2 separate regions of the Homo sapiens genome follow, and region 1 is linked to region 2. The links come from fine-mapping of genetic effects on gene expression. A gene starts in region 2. The other region holds a variant in brackets. All regions are shown on one strand. Distances are between the middles of the regions.

Region 1 (15,665 bases), 160 kb before region 2:
CACTGCACTCCAGCCTGGTGGACAGAGTGAGACTCCGTCTGAAAAAAAAAAAAAAAGAATTGCGAATGTCTGATCATAAACTTACCAGTAGTGGATAGTTTGCTCCTTAAAATGTTTTGCTCAATGAGAAATTCTAATAGTTTCAGTTTTTATTGTAAGTTTTAATATAAATAGAAAAATGTTCAATTACAATGCTATTCAGGAAGATCATGGTTATCTGGCCTAGCAAGTGTGTGAGTAATCAGAGGTGTAATTAAGAGGCTGGCTCTATTTTCAAAATCTATATAACTCAGTAGCTGCATTTTATACCTTCAGTTGAAGGATAGTGTATGATTTAAACTTTTTATTTATTTATGTTTTTAAAGGTGAGGTCTCACTCTGTCACCCAGGCTGGAGTGCAGTGGCATGATCATAGCTCACTGCAGCCTCTACCTCCTGGACTCCCATGATCCTTCAGCCTCAGCCTCCTGAGTAGCAGGGACTGAAGTTGCGCAGCAGCACAACTGGCTACTTGTTTTTTTTGTTTTTTTTTTTGGTAGAGATGAGGGTCTCACTTTGTTGCCCAGTCTTTTAAAACTTGTTTTAAATACACTGTTTTAAAAGTTGTTTAAAATCTTTTTTCCTGTGACATGTTGGAATTTTATGTATTTTTGGAGTGTGGTAACTGTAAAGCGTTTCTACTTTGGTTTAGTTTTTCATAATCTCTGTTATGTGGTCACTGTAACAAATTCCATAAACTTAGCGGCTTAAAACAACAGAAATGGGCTGGGCACGGTGGCTCACACCTGTAATCCCAGCACTTTGGGAGGCCAAGGTGGGCGGATCACTTGAGGTCAAGAGTTCGAGACCATCCTGGCCAACATGGCGAAACCCCATCTCTACTAAAAATACAAAAATTAGCCTGGCGTGGCAGCAGGTGCCTATAATCCCAGCTACTCAGGAGGCTGAGGCAGGAGAAATTGCTGGAATCTGGGAGGTGGAGGTTACAGTGAGCTGAGATCGCACCACTGCCTCCAGCCTAGGCAACATGTGAGACTCTGTGTCAAAAAAAAAAAAAAAAAAAAAAAACCGGAAATTTATTCTCTCACGGTTTTCGAGGCCAGAAGTTCAACATCAGTTTCACTGGGCCAAAGTCAAGGCGTTGGCAGGGCTGTGGAGGGAAGCTGCTCTTTGCTTCTTCCAGCCTCTGGTGGGCTGCAGCATTCCCTCACCTGTGGCCACATCACTCCAGTCTGCTTCACCTTCTGTACTTTGTGAGGTGTCAAATCTCCCTCTGCCTCTTATAAAGTCATTTGAGTGGCATTTAAGGCTTACCCAGATAATCTAGGATAATCTCTTTTATCTCAAAATTTTTTATAACATCTTCAAAGACCATTTTCCTTATAAGGTAGCATTCACAGGCTCCAGAGATTAGGAGCCGATGTCTTTGGGGGCCGTTTTCCACCATACTACAGTCTGCTTTAGAGCTGTTAGCTCAACAAGTTTAGTCTTTTTCAAAACTTAGTGATGGTGTCTGTGGCCATCGTTTTATTCTGAAAGGGCAGTGGGTGAAGCATTCTACCTTGGTGGTAGGTAAACTGCTCAGCTTCAGACGCTATTCTCTTGGTGGCCTGAGTGAGGGCATTACCACCTGAGGGTACTTGGGAAAGCTGTTGAATTGGGTGAAGCAAAATGCATCCAAGCTTGACCCTATGAAAGCTAGAGAAGGAAAGTAGGAATGATAATATCATGGACATTTGTAATTATTTTAGGAGTATAGAGACGTATTCTTTGCTATGGAGTTGATGGTTCTAGATACCTGATTACCATTTGAATTAGCGTGACAGCTCTAATTTTAAAGTAAAGGCTCTGCCTTAGGTAGAAGCATAATTGTGAATTCAGGGAAATGAAAACCCTGAGGCCTTTCTCTTTTCATAATACTAACACCCCGTTGAACTACTCTGACAAGTCACCTAGCTTCTCAGGTGAGACAACAATGTTTATAGGAGCAAGTTTTAAGGTTACAGGTATGAACGTGAATTCGTGGTAGTTTTCTAACAAATTAGCAACTGAGAAATTGCCCTGTCAAGCAGTGTTAATGGTGTTATGATGGAATATTGGTCACAAATGCTTCTGATAGCTTTGCAGGGCTTCTTTTATTGGCCTCATCGCTGGGATTGATACCATAGGATTCCGTGGAGCCTTAGTTATTGCAATATTGATTGCAGACGGCTTTGGAATAGCCATTGATAAAGACCGATTTGGAATTCTTTGATGTCAAGTCCTTTTGTGATTTCACATTTAGGAGAAAACTAAAAACCGATTCTGCTTATGTGTAGCAGTTGGTTTGAGAATAGAAAGGGAAGGTGATATGAATGGACCTATGTCTGGTCTTGTGCTGGATTCTAATGATATGAAAGTGTATGGGGCCGGGTGCGGTGCCTCACGCCTGTAATCCCAGCACTTTGGGAGGCCGAGGCAGGCAGATCACGAGGTCAGGAGTTCGAGACCAGCCTGACCAACATGGTGAAACCTCGTCTCTCCTAAAAATACAAAAATTAGCTGGGTGTGATGGCACACACCTGTAATCCCAGCTACTCAGGAGGCTGAGGCAGGAGAATCCCTGGAACCCAGGAGGCGGAGGTTGCAGTGAGCTGAGATCGTGCCACTGCACTACAGCCTGGGTGACAGAGCAAGACTCCATCTAAAAAGAAAAAGTTTAGCATAGAATTACCATATGACCCGGCAATTCTACTTCTGGGTATATCGTCAAAAGAATTAAAGCGGGTACTCAAACAGGTATTTTGTACACCCACGTTCACAGCAGGATTATTCGGCCAAAACATGGAAATAAAGCCAGGTGCAGTGGCTTACGCCTGTAATCCCAGTACTTTGGGAGGCCGAGGTGGGCAAATCACGAGGTCAAGAGTTCAAGACCAGCCCAACCAACATGGTGAAACCCCGTGTCTACTAAAAATACAAAAATTAGCCGGGCATAGTGGTGCGCGCCTGTAATCCCAGCTACTCAGGAGGCTGAGGCAGGAGAATCGCTTGAACCCGGGAGGCAGGGGTTGCAGTGAGCTGAGATTGAGCCACTGCACTCCAGCCTGGGCAACAGAGTGAGAGTTTGTCTCAAAAAAAAAAAAAAAAAAAAGTGTGTCTTAGCTAGTAGGGAAGGCAGGTGTTACCAGATAATTACACAGAGTAGTGAGTATGGTTGTAATAAGCACCATGCTGAGAAACGTTAAGGGTTAAAATGTATAACAAGGAAATCTATATAGCTGGAGAAGTGGGGTTGGGCAGGGACTGAGGAGCAGTGTGGCGGCACCCCAAGTGCAAAGGCCCTGTGGTGGGAAGCTGCCAAGCTGTTTCCCTTTCCTTTGTGTAAGTATCTTTAATATTTTGTTACAAAAGTCACAGATGTTTATTTTGAAAAGTTGAACATGTAGCAGGTAAATATTGCTTGTGATGTCATTCTCCATTGTAATCTCACTCACTGTTAACCAGTGGTGTACTGGATTGTTTTCTTACCAAATTATAACTAAATCACTTGAAAAATGTTTTCTTTGCCTTTCTAAATAAAGATTTATGAAAGTCCTCTAACAGGCTAGAACCTGCTTTTTATTATTTCTTTGAGACAGAGTCTTGCTCTATCACCTAGGCTAGAGTGCAGTGGTGCAATCTCCTGGACTCAAGCCATCCTCCCACCTCAGCCTCCTGAGTACCTGGGACTACAAGCACGCACCACCACACCCGACTAATTTTTTTTTTTTTTTTTTTTTGGTAGAGACTGGGGTCTGACCATGTTGCCCAGGCTGGTCTTGAACTCCTGGGCTCAAGGAATCCACCTGCTTCGGCCTCCCTAAGTGTTGGGATTACAGGCGTGAGCCACCACACCCAGCCAGAACCTACTTTTTAAAAATGTGTATTGACTTTTCTTTTTCAACCACTTGGGGATTGTTTCCCTGCCACTGGATAATTTCTCTAAGATAAACTGTTTGCAGACAAGTTCAGCATGTCAACTGGCTAGAGGGTTCTCGGTAATGTCACAGGAATTACGTTAACATTCTTTCTAGTCATTCAGAATCAGTGTTTTAACTTTTTTGACAGATTTTTTTTTTAATCTTAGTTTGTTTTTAGGATATTAAGCAAAAAATGCCTGTGTTTAAGTAAAAATGGATTGGAATCAGAGTTCTCAAATTGGACACAATTTCTCAAAAGTCACTCAACAATTTATAATCTCATAAAGAGCCTGGAAAGAGAAGGGCATTGACATTTGTTGAGGGGCCATCACTGGCATAGAACAGGCATGGTTATGTGAACGTAGCCCATTTTCTATGAATCAATGCTGCTTTCTTTTGAAATGTGTTAAAGTATTAAGGTTTTCAGTTTTTTTCTGATTATAAGTAAATAGGTTCACTGTAAACGTTTGGGGAAAAAATACTTTTGAAAGTTATCCTTCCCCCCAGCAACGGTAGCACTGGTGATTTGGAATGCATTGTGGTGGTGCTGGTGGTGGTGGGTGTCGCGCTTCTCACCTTAGTGGCATCGTGTTATGATTAGGAGTTTCCGCTTTAAATACAACTGGAAATCATTCTTGAAATCTTTTCCCCTTTAAATACATTTCTTATTTTAGCAGTTTTCCAGTATGTTTTATCTTGATCATAAATTGTCCCCTCACCCCCCACCTCCTTATTTATGTTTGGTACCAGAATCTGTAGTAAGTGCTTCTTTTCCCATGTGTTGATCCAGTGAAACCACATAAGGTGACTCTTCCTGTTGATTTCAGTGCTGGGTAAATCCCTTGGGGAAGTGATGCTGCCCATCTTGGAGCAGAATCCCAATTCCATTTTCTCAGAGCCTGATTGCATCATTTCTGTGAATACTCACGAAAGTAGAAGGCACAAAGCCTTGCACAGTAGTCCTCAGGAATTCCACTTCGTTTTCCTACTCAGATCATCTGTATTACTCCCATCCAGAGATTTAACCAATCTATTAGTTTAAAAAAATTTTTTTAACACAGATCCTATAAGCGCTCTGAAGGCTTGCCTTCTCAAATTAACTAACCTATTCCCATCACCTCCCACTCCATAATTTTAACTTACATTTGTCTTTTCTGGCCTGCGAGTCAGTCTCTCTCTCTCTCGTTCCTGATATTGCCCTCTGCCATCTGTTTCTTAAAGCAAAGCCCCGTCTTCCTCACAAGTGCGTGTTTTAAGACATTGTGTCCATTTAGAAGTTCTCTGTTGTTTCTGAGCAAGGCTCACAGATCAGCAATAGCCCATCCTTTCCACGAGTTTAGACTCATAAAATAAAAGTATTTGCTTACTGGGCACCTATAGTCCTTGCCTGAGTTGGTAACTCCCTCCACAGAGTGGTCCCTGTCATGCCTGGCTCTGCTTCTCACTTGTTGCTCCTTTTGTGATCCTGTGCTGCTTCTCCTCCTCTTGACCTATACATGTTAAAGTGCCCCCGACACCCAGTCCTTGGACTTCATTGATCTGCACTGAGTCCTAGATTTCATCTGATTCCATGGCTTGAAATGCCATTAATACTTTGATTTTATTTGAAGATAAAAATACCAGATTTTTATCTTCAGCTTGGAGCTGGACTCCAGACCCTGGTATCCAGCTGCCAACTCCAGTTGGATCTGTAGTGGGCATCTCAAAAGTGACTAAAACCAAAAAAGACCCCCAAAAAGGAAGAAAAAATGACCAAAACCAAATTCCCACACCGCAGTCCTTGCGGAAGCCAATCTTCCTATAGTCTTTGTCACATCCCTAAATATTAATTCCATTCTTCATTTGCAGGTATTTTTGAGTCCTCTTTCTCCTACACCTGCATTCAATCTGTCAGCAGTTCCCGACTATCAGCGGAACCTTCAGAAAAGATCTCGAAGCCAACCACTTCTTGCCACCTCTGCTGCTGCAGCCACTAGTTCTCCTCTGGCTAGCAGTAGTCAGTTAGTAAATAGACTACTACTACTAATAACGTCTCCCTGCATTCTCTTGTCCTAGAAATTATTAGTAGCTTCATTAGAACTGCTTTTTTAAAGTACCATGTAGCAAGCTGCCAGCATGGTCCTTTAAAACTGTGGGTTGGATCGTGTCACTCCTCTGCTTTCCCTCTCACTGGGAGTAAAGGCCCAAGTCTCAGCAGTGGCTTTGAAGCCCTTCTTCCCTGTGGCAGCCTCTCTGACCTCATCCTCCCACTCTTCCTCCATATTTGCCCCAGCCACGCCAGCCTCTGGGCCTTGTGTTTGCCCTTCCCTTTGTCTACTGCATGCTTCTTGCCTGATGCCTGGCTGTCCCTTCACATCCCTTGCTGTCTTAGAAAACAGCCACTATCACCCTCCTTCTCCACCTGAAACACTCCCTGCCACCATAAATGGCTTATTCCCCCCAAAAGGTGCCGACATTCATTCGTTAATTTATTATTTCCTAGTGCTTTTTTCCATTAGAATATAAGCACAGATGAGGGCAGAAGCCTTATTTTGTTCCATGCTGTATTCTCAGTGCCTGCAACAGTGTCTGGAATATAGTGGATGTCTAATTTTCCTGACATTTTTATATTGGGAAATCAGAACAGGATTTGTAACTAAAAAAAAAACAACGCAATTACTTTATTACTTTTGCACCAAGCTAATACACCATTTAAGAAGTGGTCAGTAATGGCCGGGCGTGGTGGCTCACGCCTGTAATCCCAGCACTATGGGAGGCCAAGGCGGGCAGATCACAAGGTCAGGAGATTGAGACCAGCCTGGCTAACACGGTGAAACCCCATCTTTACTAGAAATACAAAAAATCAGCCGGGTGTGATGGCGTGCATCTGCAGTTCCAGCTACTCAGGAGGTTGAGGCAGGAGAATGGCTTGAACCCGGGAAGCGGAGGTTGCAGTGAGCCAAGATCGTGCCACTGCACTCCAGCCTGGGCAACAGAGCGAGACTCCGTCTCAAAAAAAAAAGAAGCAGTCAGTACTTTCTTGAAATGTTTTTCCTAACAATTTGGGACAAAATTGAGGCAATTTTTACTTCTAAATGTAGTCAGTGGCTAATTAGCTCAGAGTGTGTCAGCCAAACCGTGACCATGGGGACATTTCCACGTGAGCCAGCTATGTCCCATGGGAGTCTGCACCCTTGTGTGTTTGTTGGGAGGGGGCACCTCTGTGGTAGCTATGAAGCATTTAGGCTTTGCTAGCCGCCCTGTCTTGTCTTGTCTTGTCTTGTCTTGTCTTGTCTTGTCTTGTCTTGTCTTGTCTTGTCTTTTTTCCTTTCCTTTCCTTCATCTTCTTTCCTCTTCTTTTCTCTTCTTTTCTTTTCACAGTCTTGCTGTGTCGCCCAGGCTGGATGGAGTGCAGTGGCACAATCTTGGCTCAGTGCAACCTCTGCCTCCTGGGTTGAAGCTATTCTCCTGCCTCAGCCTCCCAAGTAGCTGGGATTACAGGCATGTGACACCACGCCTGGCTAATTTTTGTATTTTTAGCAGGGATGGGGTTTCACCTTGTTGTCCAGGCTGGTCTCGAACTCCTGACCTCAGGTGATCTGCCCGCCTTGGCCTCCCAAAGTGCTGGGATGTTTTCAACCCCTATTTGTCTATACTCTACTACAGTATCGACTTGTGTTAGCTTTTTAAAATCCCATCGCTACCTTTAATGTGTAAACGTGTGGTCTTAGAGGAAAGATCATGCCAGCAAGAACAGATTCCACACTTAGGAGGGCAGAACAAATGATGACCTGATCATTAGTACAATATATATTCATTTTGAGCTGAAAATTTTTTTAAATAGCCCCCAAATTATTGATAGCTTCATTAGAATTGTTTTTACAAATGTTTCATTTATCAGTTTAAGAAAGATCTTTTGATAGCTTTTATCATATGGACCTGTGGAGAATCTCTCTCTGCTAGGCTACATCCAGACATGTGCAGTGCATTCATACTAGTGAAATTTAGCCATGTTCTGTGATTGACAGAAGTACCTGTTAGATTAAATTACCTTGAGTTCAAATAATATCAGTTGATCACAATATAAATGAGATCTGAGGGCACAGATTTTTTCCAGTTTGGATCATTAACCCACATTTAATTTAAATTATGTGCACATTAGAGTGGATCTCAGTCTGTGTTCCATGAATTGAACCAAAGTTTGCTATTACTAAAGTGATTTGTTGGTGAATTTTCCTAATTCTCAGAAAAATGTTTGGTTGATATTATAATTTCCTTAATTTTTTATTCCATAATTTTTCTTAAAATTTTGTATCTATTCTTTGCCCTAACATGATAAAATGAATAAGTAAATTAGAGCGATTGCTCTTACACTGGAGCTTGCATCACCTGGAGGTCTTACTACAACACAGATTGCTGGGCCTCATCCCCAAATTTTCTGCTTTCTCTCAAGTAGACATCTTGGTTGGGACTTAAAGACTTTCCATGGCCGGGCGTGGTGGCTCACGCCTGTAATTCCAGCACTTTGGGAGGC[C/T]GAGACAGGCAGATCATGAGGTCAGGAGATCGAGACTATCCTGGCCAACATGGTGAAACCCCGTGTCTACTAAAATAGCAAAAAAAAATTAGCCAGGTGTGGTGGTGCGCACCTGTAGTCCTAGCTACTCGGGAGGCTGAGTCAGGAGAATCGCTTGAACCCAGGAAGCAGAGGTTGTAGTGAGCCGAGTTTGGGCCACTGCACTCTAACTTGGGGACAGTGCGAGACTCCGTCTCAAAAAAAGAAAAAAAAAAAGACTCTCCATGGATAACCTTTCTATTCCATATATTTTATTTCTATTTCATATAATTATGCTTTATGTCTTATTTTTGAGGTATATTAGGACTCCTGAGAAGCCTAAAAGTACATTGTTCCATGATTATCCATAAGTTGTGTGTTAAACACAGGCATTCTACAGATGATTTCCTAAAGGACCAAAAGCACTTTTCCTGGTCCTGGTTCTTTTTCTCTGGAGGGTCAAGGACTAGGGAGTAAACCAGAAAGTATAATGGCAAGCAGTAGGGAAGTTAGTGGTGGTAGCAGCTGTGATTCCTGCCTTGTTTCTGTCTGTGCAGGAGCTTCTCTCACCCCCTTACACACCATGGACATTTTGAGAAAGGAGAGGATTTGAAGAGGTCAGGAAGTATCTTTAATTTACAGTTTTTTTTAATGCAGAAATATAGTTTCTATGATGCAGTTTAGAATACAACCTATTTATTTCATCAGTTGAGTGCCTCTAGGATGTACTGTGTGCTATACTAGATACACAAGGGCCAGAGATAAGAAAAATAGATTCTCAACCTTAGGAACTCTCAATTAAGGAAGCAGACACTTAAACAATATAGTCACATAAGGGCTTTCACTTAAGTTTTATAGCATAAGTATATAACTAGATTTGGCAGTGAATGTCAAGGAACACTTCCTAGAGGATGTGAACACTGAACTGGGACTTAAGGAATTAGGCAAAGAGATGGTGTTATAACATTCCAGGCAGACAGAGGAGAAAGGCATGGTGCATTGCCCTTCCCCACACCCCCAGGAAAAAAATGCATTTTATTTTATTTTATTTTAGACAGGGTCTTGCTCTGTCACTCAGGCTGGAGTCCAGTGGTGCAGTCTTGGCTCACTTCACCCTCCATCTCCTGGGCTCAAGTGATCCTCCTGCTTCAGCCTCCTGAGTAGCTGGGATTACAGGCGCATACCACCACACCTAGCTAATTTTTGTATTTTTGGTAGAGACGGGGTTTCACCATGTTGGCGAGGCTGGTCTCAAACTCCTGGATTCAAGTGATCTGCCCACCTGGGCCTCCCAAAGTGTTGGGATTACAGGCATGAGCCACCACACCTGGCCAAAAATTCATTTTATTTAATGACCAAGTATACACACATTTACACATATATAACTAAAACAAAACTTACTATGTGGGATGCATTGTGAAATATTCTGCTCTGTGTTCTTTCATTTAAAAAAAATTACTGGTCACAACATAGTAAAAAAAATGTTGCAAACCATTAATATGTTACAACCCATAATTGCCCTAGAGCACTATGAATGCTGAGCTATAATTTTAGGGAAAGTTACAGTCTTGCTCCTTAGAATTAGCCCATGGTAGTATTCTGTGTATTCAGAGGAAAATAACATAATCTTGTTACCATGTATGTGCCCTGGACATGGTAGGTGCTTTCTGTGTGCTTAAATCACCTACCTTCCCAGGCCCTGGAGATAAGAGTGTGACTTGCAACTATGTAACAGGACCCTGGATCTATCTGTGTTGTACCTTTTATAGAAACAACTTTTTTAGGTACATTATTTCATGTGATCCTCACAACAGCCCTGTGAGGTGGATGGGGAAAATATGATCAGCTTCACTTTCTGGATAATGGAAGTTAAGGTTCAGAGAGGTTAAGTGACTTTGTTGGTTACCAACTGCCTAGTAAGAGACAGAGGTGGGATAGGAGAGGGCTATTTTCTGTAAACCACATAGCTTCTGAGAGTATAATCTAACTTGAAATATAAAATACATTTATATAAATTTACCACTTCATCATTTTCTTTTTTTTCACTCTGTCACCCAGGCTGCAGTGTAATGGCATGGTCATGGCTCACTGTGTCCGCAATTTCCTGGGCTGCAGCCATCCTCCCACTTCAGCCTCCTGAGTGTAACTACAGGTGCATACCACCATCCTTGGCTAATTTTTTAATTTTTATTTTTAGTAGCAATGAGGTCTTGCCGTGTTGCCCAGGCTGGTCTCGAACTCCTGGCCTCAAGCAGTCCTCTTGCCTTGGTCTCCCAGAGGGCTAGGATTATAGGCATAAGCCACCACCTGGCCCATTTGCTTGTTGTTAATGCAGCTTTTTATAGGATACAACAAAAAACCTAATTCTAAATTTATCATGCCAAGTTTATGCATCTGTACCAATGAAAGCTTATAGCCACAGAACATCTGTTTTTCAGAAAGTGCTGTTTCTTTGGCTCTTGTCTTAAAGGAACATAAGTAATATGAAAGACCCTAGGGGTCAAGGAAATTGAAGAAAACTGAGGAAGGGATATAAAATGGAATGTAGTCACGGATTTTAGTCCCTTTAAGCTTTTACTTTTGTGAGATGGCTCAATGATGGAGAGCTTTAATGCAGATGAACCTTGAAGCTTTTAAAGATCTAAGTCTTGACGAGGTTATTGAAATTCAAATCTTCAATGCATTGTGATAGTAGGCTATAATTTTTGAACACTTGGCCGGGCACAATGGCTCATGCCTGTAATCGTAGCACTTTGGGAGGCCGAGGTGGGAGGATCGCTTGTGGCCAGGAGTTCAAGACTAGCCTGGCCAACATGGTGAAACTCTGTCTCTACTAAAAAATACAAAAATTAGGCGGGCATGGTGGTGCACACCTGTAATTCCAGCTACTTAGGAGGCTGAGGCATGAGAATAGCTTGAACCTGGGAGGTGGAGGTTGCAGTGAGCCAAGATCGTGGACACTGCACTCCAGCCTGGGTGAGGGAGCGATACTCTGTCTCAAAAAAAAAAAAAAAAAAACTTGGTACTTGATGCTCTCCCGAAGTGCTAGGATTTGAATGCCACAATTCATATTGTTTTATGTTTTTATCTATTACTGTTCCATGGGTTTCTTTAAATGAAGTCCATTTTAGAGTCCATAGGCAAAACTGCTGGGGATCCAAGATCCAAGGCTCCCAATGGACCACCCATTGCTCTTTTTCTCAAGCTTTCTTTGTACTTTATACCTCAAAAGTACACTGCTCTTACTGAGTGTGGTGGCTCATGCTGGTAATCCTAACACTTTGGGAGGCTGAGGTGGAGGATTGCTTGAGCCTAGGACTTTGAGGCCACAGTGAGCCATCATCACACCACTGCACTCCAACCTGGGTGACAGAGCAAGACCCTGTCTCTTAAAAAAAAAAAAAAAAGTATACTGCTGTTCAATTCTATGCCTTTTCTCCTAAGTGTAAGATATATGATCATTAATGAGAGGTTTTAATGTTAAATTTGGTAAAATTTAATAATTGAAAAATCCTTAGCTTATAACTGATGTAGAATAGATAGAAGACTGTTTAGTGAAACCTATGAGAAAAATCAAAAGGCACGTTAAAAGTTAAATACTATAATCGAATTTAAATAGTAAGGGAACCAGAAAAAAAATTCATGTTAGAAAACAATTGTAAAGTTGTCTTTAGCATTGATCAGATTTTTTTTTTTTGCCATTCCCCTAAGCATACTGCTCACATGCACATCTTACCCTCCAGTGAACTCACACAGATACTCCTGTAACATGAAAGAGACCTGAGATCAAGTAAAAATTCATGTTTTGTGTTTGTGTTGAGTATCATTAAAGGTATGTCCAGGCATGTATTTTTGTGAATACTTCGAAGTAATTTATCATTTGTACTTTTCTATGTGTTTGTGGAAAGGAAATTGACCTGCGTCTGGTGTAGTTGAGAATTTGTTGGGCAGCAGTGCTGGGTTCTACTCGTGAGACTGCTGCAGGTGGATCATGTGGTTTTAGGCATGTGGCCTCAGTTTCATTTGCAAATTGAAGGAGTTGCACTGATGATCTTAAGGCATCTTTGGCTCTGAAGTTCTGTATTTTTGCCCTTTATCGTAGGGCCTTTTTAGTCTGACTTGTACTAATGCATAATTCGATAATGAGGTGGTATCATGGACATCCTTTTTCTCATTCCATTAGTAGTGAGTGTGATGTATAATATCCTCATTTCCAAAGGTCATTATAAATTACAAGCATCCCCCACTATTCAGATCAATCGGTTCCCAAATTCAGATAGTAAGAGATACATTTACATTACCGAATACAGTAGCTTCTCAGTTTTGTTGCCATTGTGAAGGAATGATAAGGTAGACATTTCCAGATGGGCACTACTTTGATATCTGAATATTGGTTTCTTAAATATCTAGAACAGTGAATTGAAACTAACAACAACAAAGAGATATGAAGTCCTTTACTTTCCTTACTCTTGTCCCTCTGCTAAATTTTGTTTGTGGTGATGAGTAGCCAGCACAACAGTTAGGAGTCTCTTACTGTGATGGACAAAGCTTAGTATAGATGCCTTTTCCTAAGCTTGCCTTGGAACAAAGAGATAAATAACTTCCTTGTAGTTTACTCACCCAGTTCAGAGCATTACCAAAACATGTAGTTTGAGCAGATAGATGAGAAAGCTCTACTAGATATCAGTATAACAAGGAGCAAAGATGGTTCTTACTGTTTACTGAGAGAAATATTTGTTGAGCACCTGCTGTTTGTCAGTACTGTTCTAAACACAAGCAAGGAACAAGTCAGAATGAGTCCCTGCCTTCTGTAGTTTACATTCTGGCCAGTCTGGGGGCACTGTATTCCTGAGCAGGCATCATATGATTGGGGAGAGCCAAGATTGTCTTTAAAGAGTGGAGACATCAGTTATTAAAGTATAGTCATGCATTGCTTAATGACAGGGATACCACACATTCTGAGAAATGTGAGTTTAGGTGATTTTGTTATCGTGCAGATATCATAGAGTGCACTCATAGAGTGTGTCTCGGACACATTCTAGAAATGTGAGGTTAGGTGGTTTTGTTGTCATGCAGTTGTCATAGAGTGTACTTACACAAACCTAGGTAGTCTAGCCTACTACACACCTGGGCCATTGCTCCTAGGCCACTAACCTGTACAGCTTGTTACTGTACTGACTACTGTAGTCACTGGTAACACAATATTATTTGTTATCTAAACATATATAAACATAAAGATACAGTAAAAATACAGAATAAAAGATTTTAAAATGGTACACCTGTGAAGGGCACTTCCCATGAATGGAACTTGCAGGATTTGAAGTTGCTCTGGATGAGTCAGTGAGTGAGTGGTGAGTAATTGCGTAGACCTAGTACATGTATACTATTGTAGACTTTATTAACACCGTACACTTAGGCTACGCTAAATTTATTTTGAAATGTTTCTTCAATAATTAACCTTAGCTTGTAACTGTTTTACTTTATAAAGTTTTTTTTTCTAAAAACTTTTTGACTCTTTTATGGTAATACTTGGCTTAAAATACAAACACATATAGCTATACAAAAATACATTCTGGCCACATACAGTGGCTCACGCCTATAATCCCAGCACTTTCGGAGGCCAAGGCAGGTGGATCACTTGAGGTTGGGAGTTCGAGACCAGCCTAGCCAACATGGTAAAACCCTGTCTCTACTAAAAATACAAAAATTAGCTGGGTGTGGTGGTGCACGCCTGTAATCCCACCTACTCAGGAGACTGAGGCAGGAGAATCATTTGAACCTGGGAGGTGGAGGTTGCAATGAGAAGAGATGGCACCACTGCACTCTAGCCGGGGCGACAGAGCAAGGCCCTGTCTCAAATAAATGAATGTATATTCTTTCTTAGCCAGGCACAGTGGCTCATGCCTGTAATCCCAGCACTTTTGGAGGCCAAGGTGGAGGGATTGCTTGAGGCCAGGAGTTTGAGACCAGTCTGGGCAACATAGTGAGACCTCGTCTCTACACACACACACACACACACACACACACACACACAAAGTTTTAAAATTAACTGGATGTGGTGGCTCCTGCCTCTAGTCCCAGCTACTTGGGAGGCTGAGTGGGAGGATTGGTTGAGCCCTGGAATTTGAGGTTGCAGTGAGCCATAATCACACCACTGCACTCCAGCCTGGGCCATAGAGTGAGACTGTCTCAAAACACAGACAAAAAGACACAAAAATATATTATTATTTTCTTTTCTTTTTTGGAAGACAGGGTTGCTCTGTCACCCAGGCTGGAGTACAGTGTTGCAATCATAGCTTCACTGCAGGCTTGACCTCCCATCTCAGCCTCTCAAGTAGCTGGAACCACAGGCTCATGCCACTATGCCTGGCTCACTTTTTTATTTTCTGTAGAGGCAGGGTCTTGCCATGTTGCCCAGGCTGGTCTCAACTTCTGGGCTCAAGCAGTCCGCCTGCCATGGCCCCCCAAAGTGCTGGGATTACAGGCATGAGCCACTGTGCTCAGCTATATTCTTTTTAAAATATCTTTATTCTATAACCTTTTCCTACTTTTATTTTTTTAACTTTTTTATTAAAAACTGAGACACAGGTCACAAACATTAGCTTCAGCCCACACAGGGTCGGGATTATCCATATCACTGTCTTCTCCCTCTGCATCTTGTCCCACTGGAGCGTCTTCAGGGGCAGTAGCATGCATGGAGCTGTCATCTCCTGTGATAACAGTGCCTTCCTCTGGAATATCTCTTGAATAACCTGCCTGGGGCTGTTTTATAGTTAACTTAAAAAAAAGTAGAAGGAATATACTCTAAAATAACAGTAAAAAGTATAATATAGTAAATACTAGGCAATACGAATTTTATGAAGTGTATGTCCAGCTCTGTTATAATCTTATGGAACCACCGTTGTTTATGTGGTCTGTCATTGACCAAAACATCATTATACTGTGAATGACTGTCCTTTTAATATTATATATCTTTCTCAAGGGTCTGTTTAGCATGATCTTTCATGTATTTATCTCCCCATTTTGTTTTGTTTTTCATATTTTGTTTCTGTTAGGAGAGAACATTGAAAGTATTCTCTAAGCTATTTGAAGAGAGTGACTAAATGCACCTGGGTCAGGCTGTCTGTGGGTATGAAGTGGTTGGGAGAATCCAAGAACATGGTGGTGAATGGCAGGAGAAATGGAGGCAAGTT
Region 2 (9,306 bases):
TGAGCCCTAGGCTGGACAGCCCCTCCCCAGCCCCCCAGTCTCCTGCCTGGGTGGGAGCTGACCTGAGGTTCATGGCCCTGGCGTAGCACGGCGGCGTGGAGCTGCAGCTGGTGCAGCTGGGCCCGCAGGGCCTGCTGGTTGCCCCGCACATCCCGCAGCTCCTGGGCCAGGCGCTCCGTCTCCTCCTGGATGCGCAGCAGGTCCCGGGGTGGGGGTGCCGGCAGCCTCCCCTTTGGCGGGGGCAGGACCAGCCCAGCCCGCCGCACCTCCTCCTGCAGGAAGGCTGGGCGCAGAGGAACGGGAGTGGGGTGCAGTTGAGGTTGTCTCAACAGTTGAGGGCCCCACCTGCTGCCCCAAACTCCATCGGCCACCAGCTGCTGGATTCACCAGGTGGAGGTGGCCAGAAAATCCCGGCCAAACTTTCATCCAGAAGCTGTGCTCCCCTCCCTGAGCTCAGGTCTGGGCTCACTCTCCCTCCCCAGTCCCTTGGCCACCACTCAGAAGAGGGCCTGAGGTCTCCCCACAGGCCGGCCCTTGCGCTGCAGGGCTTGGGACCGGAGCTGGCGTGAGTCCTGTGTCTGCCTGATCATTGAAAAGCTGTAAACTGCACCAGCAAACACAAAACCCTGCCTGCCCCATGCCCCTGCCTTGGTGCCCCCACAGGCTCCTCCTGAGAGGGGTTGCCCAGGGCAGGGGTCCCTTTTGCCTGCTCCTTAGGGGTACCCTACCCTAGATCCTGGGCCCCACCCACCCCAGCCCAGCTGTAGAGGAGAAAGCTGTCTGTGCCTCTTCCCTGCTTAGAAACCCCTGTGGCTTCCTGGCGCCCACAGGACGAAGTCCTGGGCTCTTATGCTGTATTCGAGGCCTCCCCAGCCAGCCCTGCCCTAGGCCCTCTGCTCAGCCCACACAAGGCAGCCACCTTCGCAAGCACACTTCACAGATCCCAGCTGCTCTGTCTTGGCCCTGCAGGGCCCTGCATATACCTCCCTTCTCTGCCTTCCACCTGGCAAACCCAGACTCTTCCTTTCAGATCAAACTTGGCCCATGCCTCCTCCAGGAAGCCTGCCTGGAATGTAGGCCTGGGACCAACTCACTGAAGGTCTTCTCCAGCTCCTCACAGCGCCGAACATCAACCACAAAGCGTCTCTGGAAGGCGCTCACCGAGGCGTTGAGCTGTGGGTGCCACACGGAGGGGTGAGTGTCCCGGGAAGGGGGTCAGGGAGCTCCTCACCCTAGAGCCCAGGCCTGACTCTCCCCAGGCCTTAGCTGCCTCCTCCAGAAAGGTGTGGAGTGCCCTGGGAGCCACAAGACGCAGATCAGAGCACAGACCAGACCCCATGCCCCAGGAGGGTATGGGGAGGAGCCAGCTCAGGGGCCTCAGCTGCGGGCTTCCCATGAGCAGTGCCCATGGCAGGGGCCGCTGGGGTTCAAATGGGGCCAGGGCCCTATGGCGGAGGGGGGGCAGTCCCCATCCTGGACCGGCCTCCGGGCTAACCTTGGCAGTAGCCCCCTTCCCACGCCTGCCCACCCAACTCACGTCTCTGAACTCCACGAGGCCCAGCTCGCCCAGCCGACTCACGCAGGTGTAGGCAGCCGCTGTGGGCAGAAAGAGCTGGACCAGGGCCACCTCCTCGCTCCGGAACATGGAGCCCATGGTCCTGTGGGTGGACACGGATGGGGGCCAGTCAGGGGCAGACCACAGACAGTTCCCAACCACGGGCACCTGTGCACCTTCACTCACTGAATCCTGGAAGCTGCTGTTACCACCCCCATCTGACAGAGGTGGAAACTGAGGCCTGGGCAGGCTTGATGCGGTGCTGAGGTCACGCAGAAAGTAAGCAGTGGGACTGGGAGACCCCGAAGCCCACCCTCAGGCCGACCTCAAGCTCTCTCCTGGCTTGCTCTGCCCATGGGGACCCCCGCCCCTACCTCCAGCGTCTCCCAGTGACACCGGCTCCACCCCCACCTTCACTCTGGCCTCCCTCCTCTCGGGCTGCCGTCACCCTAGACAGGACCCCACTGGCCCAGGCACTTAGGCCCAGGGCTGCCCCGGGGGTGGCTGGAGCCCTCGCTGCTCCCTGTGGAGCTGCATGTGCTGAGTGGTAGGAGCGGGCATCTCCACCGGGTACCCTGGGGCTAGCCAGGGAGCACTGCTGTGGGGGGGCTGTCCCCTGAGGCCCGGGCCGCCCGGCAGCAGCCGCAGCCTTCCAGGTGTTGAAACCAACAAAAGTGAAACTACAGAATGGCGGGGAAGGGCCCGGGGCCTTGCTCAAGGCCGATGTGGGGTGGGGGCAGGTGCCAGGCCACCTCCAACCCGCCCTGGATGCTGGGGCCCCTCCAGCTCCAAAGCCACTGCTCTCAGGGCCCAGGGCCCCTCTGTGGGAATCAGTTGCTTAGCTCGAAAATTAGGGGGAGGGGACAGGCCTGGTCAGGGCCCCGCCTGCCCAGCCAGTCACTTCCTCCCCTGGGTCTGGTTTACTTAACTCTAAACAGGGAAACGCAGCCCCAGCCCCAGCCTGGGAAAGGAGAGAAGGAGGGAACGAGGGAACACTGAGCAGATGGCCCAAGGCTGCAGGTGGGCAGGGCAGGGGGCAGCGGGGCTGGGTTCCATCCCTAAGGACCAGGCCCGGCCACAGGGCAGAGGGACTTGGAGCCCAGGCTGAGATTGGGTGTGTGACCTTGGGCAAGTCTCTCACCCTCTCTGTGCCTCTACTTCCTCTTTGGGTGAATGGGACGTGGCACCCCTGACAGAGACAGGATCTAGGGAGGTGACAAAAATAACCAGAGCCTCAACTGAATCCCTTCATCCACACGACCTCACACTAATCCCTGGGGGGAGAAACCCTTGGGGAGGGGGTACGGTGCTTTTGTTTCATACAGGACTCCACTGACACTTGGAGAGGTAAAGTCCAATGTTATGTGCCCAGCACAAAGGGTGAGCTCAGAGGAGGGTTGTGTCTGACCTGGCTCCCTTTGGGGCTGTGCTGGCCAAATAAGGAGGTGTGGGGAATCAGCTCTGGGGATCTGGGGAGGGGTCACCCCTGGCTCAGGGCCATCAGGGCTCCCACAGCCACTATGCCGAGGGCTCGAGGGCCGGGCTCCTTCCAGCACTTCCCAGGGGGTGGGGGAACAACCTGTAATGGGCGGGGGGAAAGGTGTGGGGACGTGATCAGCCCCCGTGCCTGGCATGTGAGGCTCCACTGGCTCACCCCCTACCCCTGTCCCCCTTGGTCCCCGCTCTAGCCAGGGTCACCCAGCCACTTTTATGGTGTAAATGAATACGCCTCCATCCTGCGGCCCTGGGGTCCAGGCTCCAGCCCACTCCTCACCCTGTGCCCCTTTCCTGGCCCCTCCAGGAACCCAGCAGGTCTCTCTGCACCTCTGCCCTCCCCTCCAGATGATGGGAAGGCAGTAGGAGAGGGTCTGGCGCCCCCTCCATTCCAAATGGGGTGGGCTCTGGAGTCAAATGACCCAGCTGGTCTCCAGCTCTGACACTTCCTAGTTGTGTGGTCTCAGCTTCCCCATCTGTAGAATGGGTCCCTCCCTCCAAGGAAGCAGCAGCGGGGAAAGCTCCGCGCACACCAGGCCCGGGAACGCTGGGCTGTGTTGGTAAACACCCCATCCTTCTCCTCCTCCCTTGGGGATCCTCCGTGGCCCCCCGCAAGGCCTGACACCCTGCGGGGTGGCGGGCTGAGCTGCATTCACGGAGCCAACTGGGTGGGGCGCCAGGATCTCCTCCCCGGGGCAGGGGGAAGAGGGTGGGCAGGAAATTCTGGGGCTCCGCAGACCCCGGCAGGGGCACTCACCCCGGGTGTGCTGCGCGCCGCGCCTCCGCTGCTGGCTGCCCCGCTCCGCGCACGCCGGGCGGGACTCAGAACTGCACTCCCGCCAGCCCGGGACTAGGCGCCGCTCACTCCTTTCCGGGCAGGCGGGACGACGGGGAGGGGCCAGGGACGCCCCGCCCCCGGCCCAAGGCTCCACTGGAGTCCAGGAAGTCTGGGAGAGGTTGAGCCCAGGCTGTGGCCTGGCGGACGGGTCCTGAGGCGCTTAATCCCGGAGAGGAGGCCTGGAGAAAGGAGCGGATAACAGACCACTGCCAACCGCGCGCGTCTATGCTGGCCCCGATGCAGGGGCAGCTCCGCTCAGGCCCAGCTCAGGATAGGAGATGAGACCCTGCTCTCCTCTCACTTCGAGGCTTGTGCGCCTCTGGCTGATGGGACCCCAACATTCGCAGGCTCATGGGCTTGGGGTCCCCAGGATGCTCCCCCACCTCCGGGACCCCTCCCTTGGGCGGCAGTGAAACCCGCCGGTGCTTACACCTTCCTGCTCTTGACCACCCTGGAGAGGCCCCGCTCTGGCCCTTGGGTGGGTGGCTGCCCCACTCTGGGCCTGCTTCACTGGCAGCAGGACACAGGGCCAGGCCATGCTGCCTTGTTCTGCCCAGCGCCCCGCACCCAGCAGGCCCTGGGAGATACCCTGGGGCCAGAGGCCAGCTGTCAGCTCCACCTGCAGCTGCAGCCGCGGGGGGTAGAGGGGGGTGTCACTGTGACCTTGCTCCAGGTCAGCACCATGGGCGTCATCAGGTCCTAGTGCCTGGAAGCTGGGACTCACGACCGTCCAGCTGCCTGCACTTTGGACAGGCCTGGGGCATTCCCACTGGAGGCCAGGGGCCCTTCAGCTCTGGTGATCCCTAAGCCCCACACAGCGAGCACAGGCCTGTGGGGCTGCGGCAGGGGTGGACAAGTGGAGCCCCAGAGCCGGGCCTGGAAACTGAGTCACAGCCAAGCTCAGCTGTGGTTCCTCAGAAAATTGGGGGACTTGTGGTTGGGCGCCATAGGCCTGTTCTGACAGGGTCGGGGCCTGATACAACCAGACAGCCTGAGTGGGGTCTCAGCAGTAAGTGCCTGGGAGACCACGGTAAGGGAAAGAACCCAGCGGTGAGCTGGAAAGACTGACCCGCTTGGAATAGAAGTATTCAGTGCACAGCTACAGGCTCCATGCCACGCTCTGACGGCGGTTACGTCTGGGAAAAGCTAAACCGGCGGTGCTTCAGGAGTCCTGCGCCTGCCTTGTTTTTGGAAAGAACACCTGTTTTCATCAGTGGCCAAGATGAGCTGCGGGCCAGACCTGTGGACACTTCCCGGGCTCCAGGCTTCCCCTCGCCTCCTGCAGTTACTTCTCACCCCAGTGCCACAGGCTGTGGGGCCCAAGCGGGAGCCTGGCCACTTTGGCATTAGATGGCAATGCCTGGTCTAGGAAGGAGGCCCAGGTGTTAGACCTGAGAAAAGCTCCCTGGGAATGGGCTGGGAGAGGCTGGTGTTTTTGCTGCAGGCCTTCTCAGAGCCTTGAATGTCTACCATGCAGTACCTGCCAGCAGGCACACAGCAGCTGGAGCATTTCCAACACTCACTGGGCCAGGAAACTTGTTCTTTCGAAGAAGTAGCTTTTTACAAAGTAGTGCTTTGTAAAAAGCACTTTTGGAAATGATGGTAGATGGGGGGGGTCAAGGTCTCTGAACTGAGTTTTATTATGGGATGTGCCCTGCATGGCCCTGAGCAAGCCCTTTCACCTCTCGGAGCTGGTTTCCTCACTGCAAATGAAGTGAAATCCTTCCACAGTACTTAGCACAAGTTCAGGGGGGCTGCTTTTGGCCATTATATGGGCAAGGGGCTTGTGTGTGGCCCTAGGGAAACCCCACCGTGTCGCTGGGCCAGCAAAGCAGGAAGTGGTGAGCAGTGGCCGGGCCAGCACCCTGGCGTAGGGAACACAGGAAAGAGGATGTGGCTGGACGCAGGCCAGCTCAGGGCCAGCAGGGCCTGTGTCACCCTCGTGTGACTGTCACCCCAAGCAGGCTTCCTCCTACCCCCAGCAAGGATGCCCCGGCCTGAGTTTCTGCCACTTGCTGTTCTTCAGCCTGAGGTCTTGGGAGGCTCCAAGTCCTAAGCGTCTTACAAGTGGATGGCTCTTGGGAGACAGGAGGCCCAGGCCCCAGCCAGGACACCCGGGAGAGTGGGAACGGCAGGTCTGTGGTGACCTCTGGCATCGCTGGGCCTTGGGGAAGACGCCCAGGAAGAGGCAGGGTGACAGGGATGCTGCGGCCTGTGGTCTAGCCATGAGAGCCTGGTGGGGCCCTGGAGTCTACAGGAAGGCAGGGCTGGGGCAGCAGGACTCCAGAGAGCATAAAGACTAGGTGGCGACCTAGTCCAGTTGGAGGCACCACAGGCCTCAGGCAGGCCGGGAACGGCCCCACCCTGGACCACCAGAGTCAAGACAAGAGGCCGTGGGGTCGGAGTGGTTTTATTGGGCAGCAGGGGCTGCGGGCCGGTGGGGCGTCACCGATACAAGTAGTCAGCCTGGATGTTGGCGGCGATCTCGGCCTCCCACTTGTCCCCGTTGTTGAGCAACTTCTCCTTGTTGTACAGCAGCTCCTCATGGGTCTCCGTGGAGAACTCAAAGTTGGGGCCCTGCAGGTTGAGGTGCAGGGACGGTGGTTAGGCCCTGCTGAGGAGCCTCAGGCCCCCTCCCACCCGGGGGCCTCACGTGCCTCGACGATGGCATCCACGGGACAGGCCTCCTGGCAGAAGCCGCAGTAGATGCACTTGGTCATGTCGATGTCATAGCGGGTGGTCCGGCGGCTGCCATCAGCTCTTGGCTCAGCCTCGATGGTGATGGCCTGCGGGAGGGGCCACCAGACACTGCCACGCTGCCCTGTCACATCCCAGCCCCCAGGGCCCCTGTCACTGCTCATCCCCACCCCTGGGGTCTGCCAGAAGCCCTCTCCCCTCAAAGGCCTCCTGGACTCCGGCTAAGAGGCCGCCCTGCACCTCTGGTGCTCGCGCCTGTCTCCTCAGCACGTGCCCTGCTGGCGTCCCTGCCTTGCTGGTTTTTTTTTTTTTTTTTTTTTTTTTGAGATAGAGTCTCGCTCTGTCGCCAGGCTGGAGTGCAGCAGCACAATCTCGGCTCACTGCAACCTCGGCCTTCCCGGTTCAAGTGATTCTCCTGCCTCAGCCCCCTGAGTAGCTGGGACTACAAGTGTGCATCACCACGCCCAGCTAATTTTTGTATTTTTTAGTAGAGATGGGGTTTCACCATGTAGACCAGGATGGTCTCGATCTCTTGACCTTGTGATCCGCTTACCTTGGACTCCCAAAGTGCTGGGATTACAAGCGTGAGCCACCGTGCCCGGCCTGCCTTGCCTGTTTGTCAGCTGCTGGCGTCATCTGCCAAGAACCCCCTCTCACGAGGGGGCTGTTCACCGCTTTGTTCAGTGTAGCACCCGCTGCCCTAAGGGTCTCACCCTGCGGTGAGTGCTGAGTTACAGTCCCGCCTCGCCTCACCAAGCTTTCCAGATATTTTGAGTTTTACAAATTGAAGGTTTGGGGCAACCCTGCATAAAGCAAGCTCACTGATGTCATTTTACCAACCATGTGCTTGCTTCTTATCTCTGGGTCAGCACTTTTTAGGAATAAAGTTTTTGTTGTTGTTTTTGTTTTTTGAGACAGAGTCTTGCCCTGTCACCCAGGCTGGAGTACAGTGGTGCAGCTCATAGCTCACTGCAGCCTCAACCTCCCAGGCTCAAGCGATCCTCCCACCTCAACCTCCCAAGTAACTGGGCCTACAGGGGCTAATTTTTTGTATTTTTTGTTGTTGTTGTAGAGTCGGGGTTTTGCCATGTTGCCCAGGCTGGTCTCAAACTCCTGGGCTCAAGTAATCCCCTCACCTTGACCTCCCAAAGCACTTGGACTACAGGTGTGAGCCACTGTGCCTGGCCCCTAAAGTATTTTTAATTAAGGTATATACATTGTGTTTTAGACACTTCGCAGCCTACAGTACAGTGTAAATCCTTTTTTTTTTTTTGAGACGAAGTCTTGCTCTGTGGCCCAGGATGGAGTATGGTGGTGCAATCATAGTTCACTGCAACCTCCGCCTCCCAGGTTCAAGCAATTCTCCTGCCTCAGCCTCTTGAGTAGCTGGGACTACAGGTGTGCAACCCCACACCCGGCTAATTTTTGTATTTTTACTAGAGACGGGGTTTCAACATGTTGGCCAGGCTGGTCTTGAATTCCTGACCTTGTGATCCGCCCACCTTGGCCTCCCAAAGTGCTGGGATTACAGGCGTGAGCCACCGCAACCGGCCCTAATTTTTTTTTTTTTTTTCAATTTTGGCTCACTGCAACCCCCACCTCCCGGTTCAAGTGATTATCGTGCCTCAGCCTAGCAAGTAGCTGAGATTACAGGGACCTGCCAACGTGCCCGGCTAAGTTTTGTTATTTTTAGTAGAGACGGGGTTTCACTATGTTGGCCAGGCTGGTCTCGAACTCTTGACCTCAAGTGATCCGCCCACCTCGGCTTCTCAAAGTGCTGGAATTACAGGCATGAGCCACTGTGCCCGGTCTAAATCTAACTTTTAAATGCACTGGAAAACCAAAACAGCTGTGTGACTCAGTTTACCCCGATGGTCTGGAGCCGAACCTGCAACATCGCCAAGAATGCCTACACTGTTGGGTGCAATCCTGTGCCTTAAATCTACTTCTCTCCATTTGATGGATGAGAAAAACAAGGTTCCGAGAGGTTGAGGGGCTCCCCAAAGCTACACAGCAAGTGGGGGCACAGCCCAAACTCAAGGGCACGTCCTAACTCTCAGTTCCTGGGTAGCCCGCTGGGGGAGGGGCTGGCTGGGAAAACCTTCAAATGTGCTTGGCAAGGACTCTCATATGCCCCCATCCCAGAAATGTAGTGTCCACAACTCACAGTGGGACCTGTGGCTGGCAGGCTCATCCTTTAGTGCTTATAAAGATGGAGACAATAACCTCGACCTCCTCGAGGGGTTGTGGAGATTACAGGAGAGGCTGTGAGTCACACACATGGCACAGCACCGGGTCTGTCTGTGGACAGCACTCACTGTCTGGAAGCCAAGGTTGTGACCATCGTGACTGCTGTTTGGGGACACTCCTATGCACTCTCAGTCCGTGGCTGGAGTAGAGACATCAGGGCCGCAGCTCATGGCCTGGAGGACCTGGGAGTGCTCCAGAGGACAAACTAGGATCTGGACAGGAGCCACCCGAGTCACAGAACACTGGGAGGGGTTGCTGTGCACACAGAAAGTAGCGGCGGCGGCTGCCGGGGCTCCTGCCAGGCACACACAGGGGTCTGACCAGAGCTCTGACCGAGTCATATTGTTCCCGTGCTGGCAGGCCTGGCCCCCACGGGTAAGCACGAGACCCACTAAGAGAACGGAAAGCCGGGCCTCAGGGGAGCAGCCACTGGGGAAGGGAAGCTGCAACAGGCACACAAGCAGGACTCCGG

Which allele goes with the higher level. Positions count from the first base shown, and alleles are read on the strand shown. Sizes are in standard deviations (SD) of each study's normalised expression.
With allele T in place of C in region 1, the expression in ovary of the gene that starts at base 3,901 in region 2 is lower (moderate effect, 0.63 SD a copy in GTEx).

The links. PIP is the estimated chance that this variant, and not a neighbour inherited with it, causes the effect.
Region 1: its variant is fine-mapped to the expression of TCIRG1 in ovary (GTEx, PIP 0.90).

Annotation. Positions count from the first base shown.
Region 1 is chr11:68,190,015-68,205,679 of GRCh38, reverse strand. It overlaps KMT5B (lysine methyltransferase 5B), which reads left to right. Exons shown (of 11, transcript NM_017635.5): 2 at 15,528-15,665. The coding sequence starts at 15,604. Among named protein-coding and RNA genes, the nearest start is that of KMT5B, 15 kb to the left of the region's middle. The variant C/T (reference allele first, on the strand shown) is at 8,455.
Region 2 is chr11:68,033,620-68,042,925 of GRCh38, reverse strand. TCIRG1 (T cell immune regulator 1, ATPase H+ transporting V0 subunit a3) reads right to left here and starts at 3,901. Exons shown (of 20, transcript NM_006019.4): 1 at 3,807-3,901; 2 at 1,538-1,658; 3 at 1,095-1,173; 4 at 63-283. The coding sequence starts at 1,654. NDUFS8 (NADH:ubiquinone oxidoreductase core subunit S8) reads right to left here. Exons shown (of 7, transcript NM_002496.4): 6 at 6,545-6,673; 7 at 6,282-6,464. The coding sequence ends at 6,333. It overlaps MIR4691 (microRNA 4691), which reads right to left and starts at 9,029; the gene lies at 8,945-9,029. RefSeq lists silencers at 1,900-2,029, 3,710-3,789, 3,850-4,029 and an enhancer at 3,921-4,542.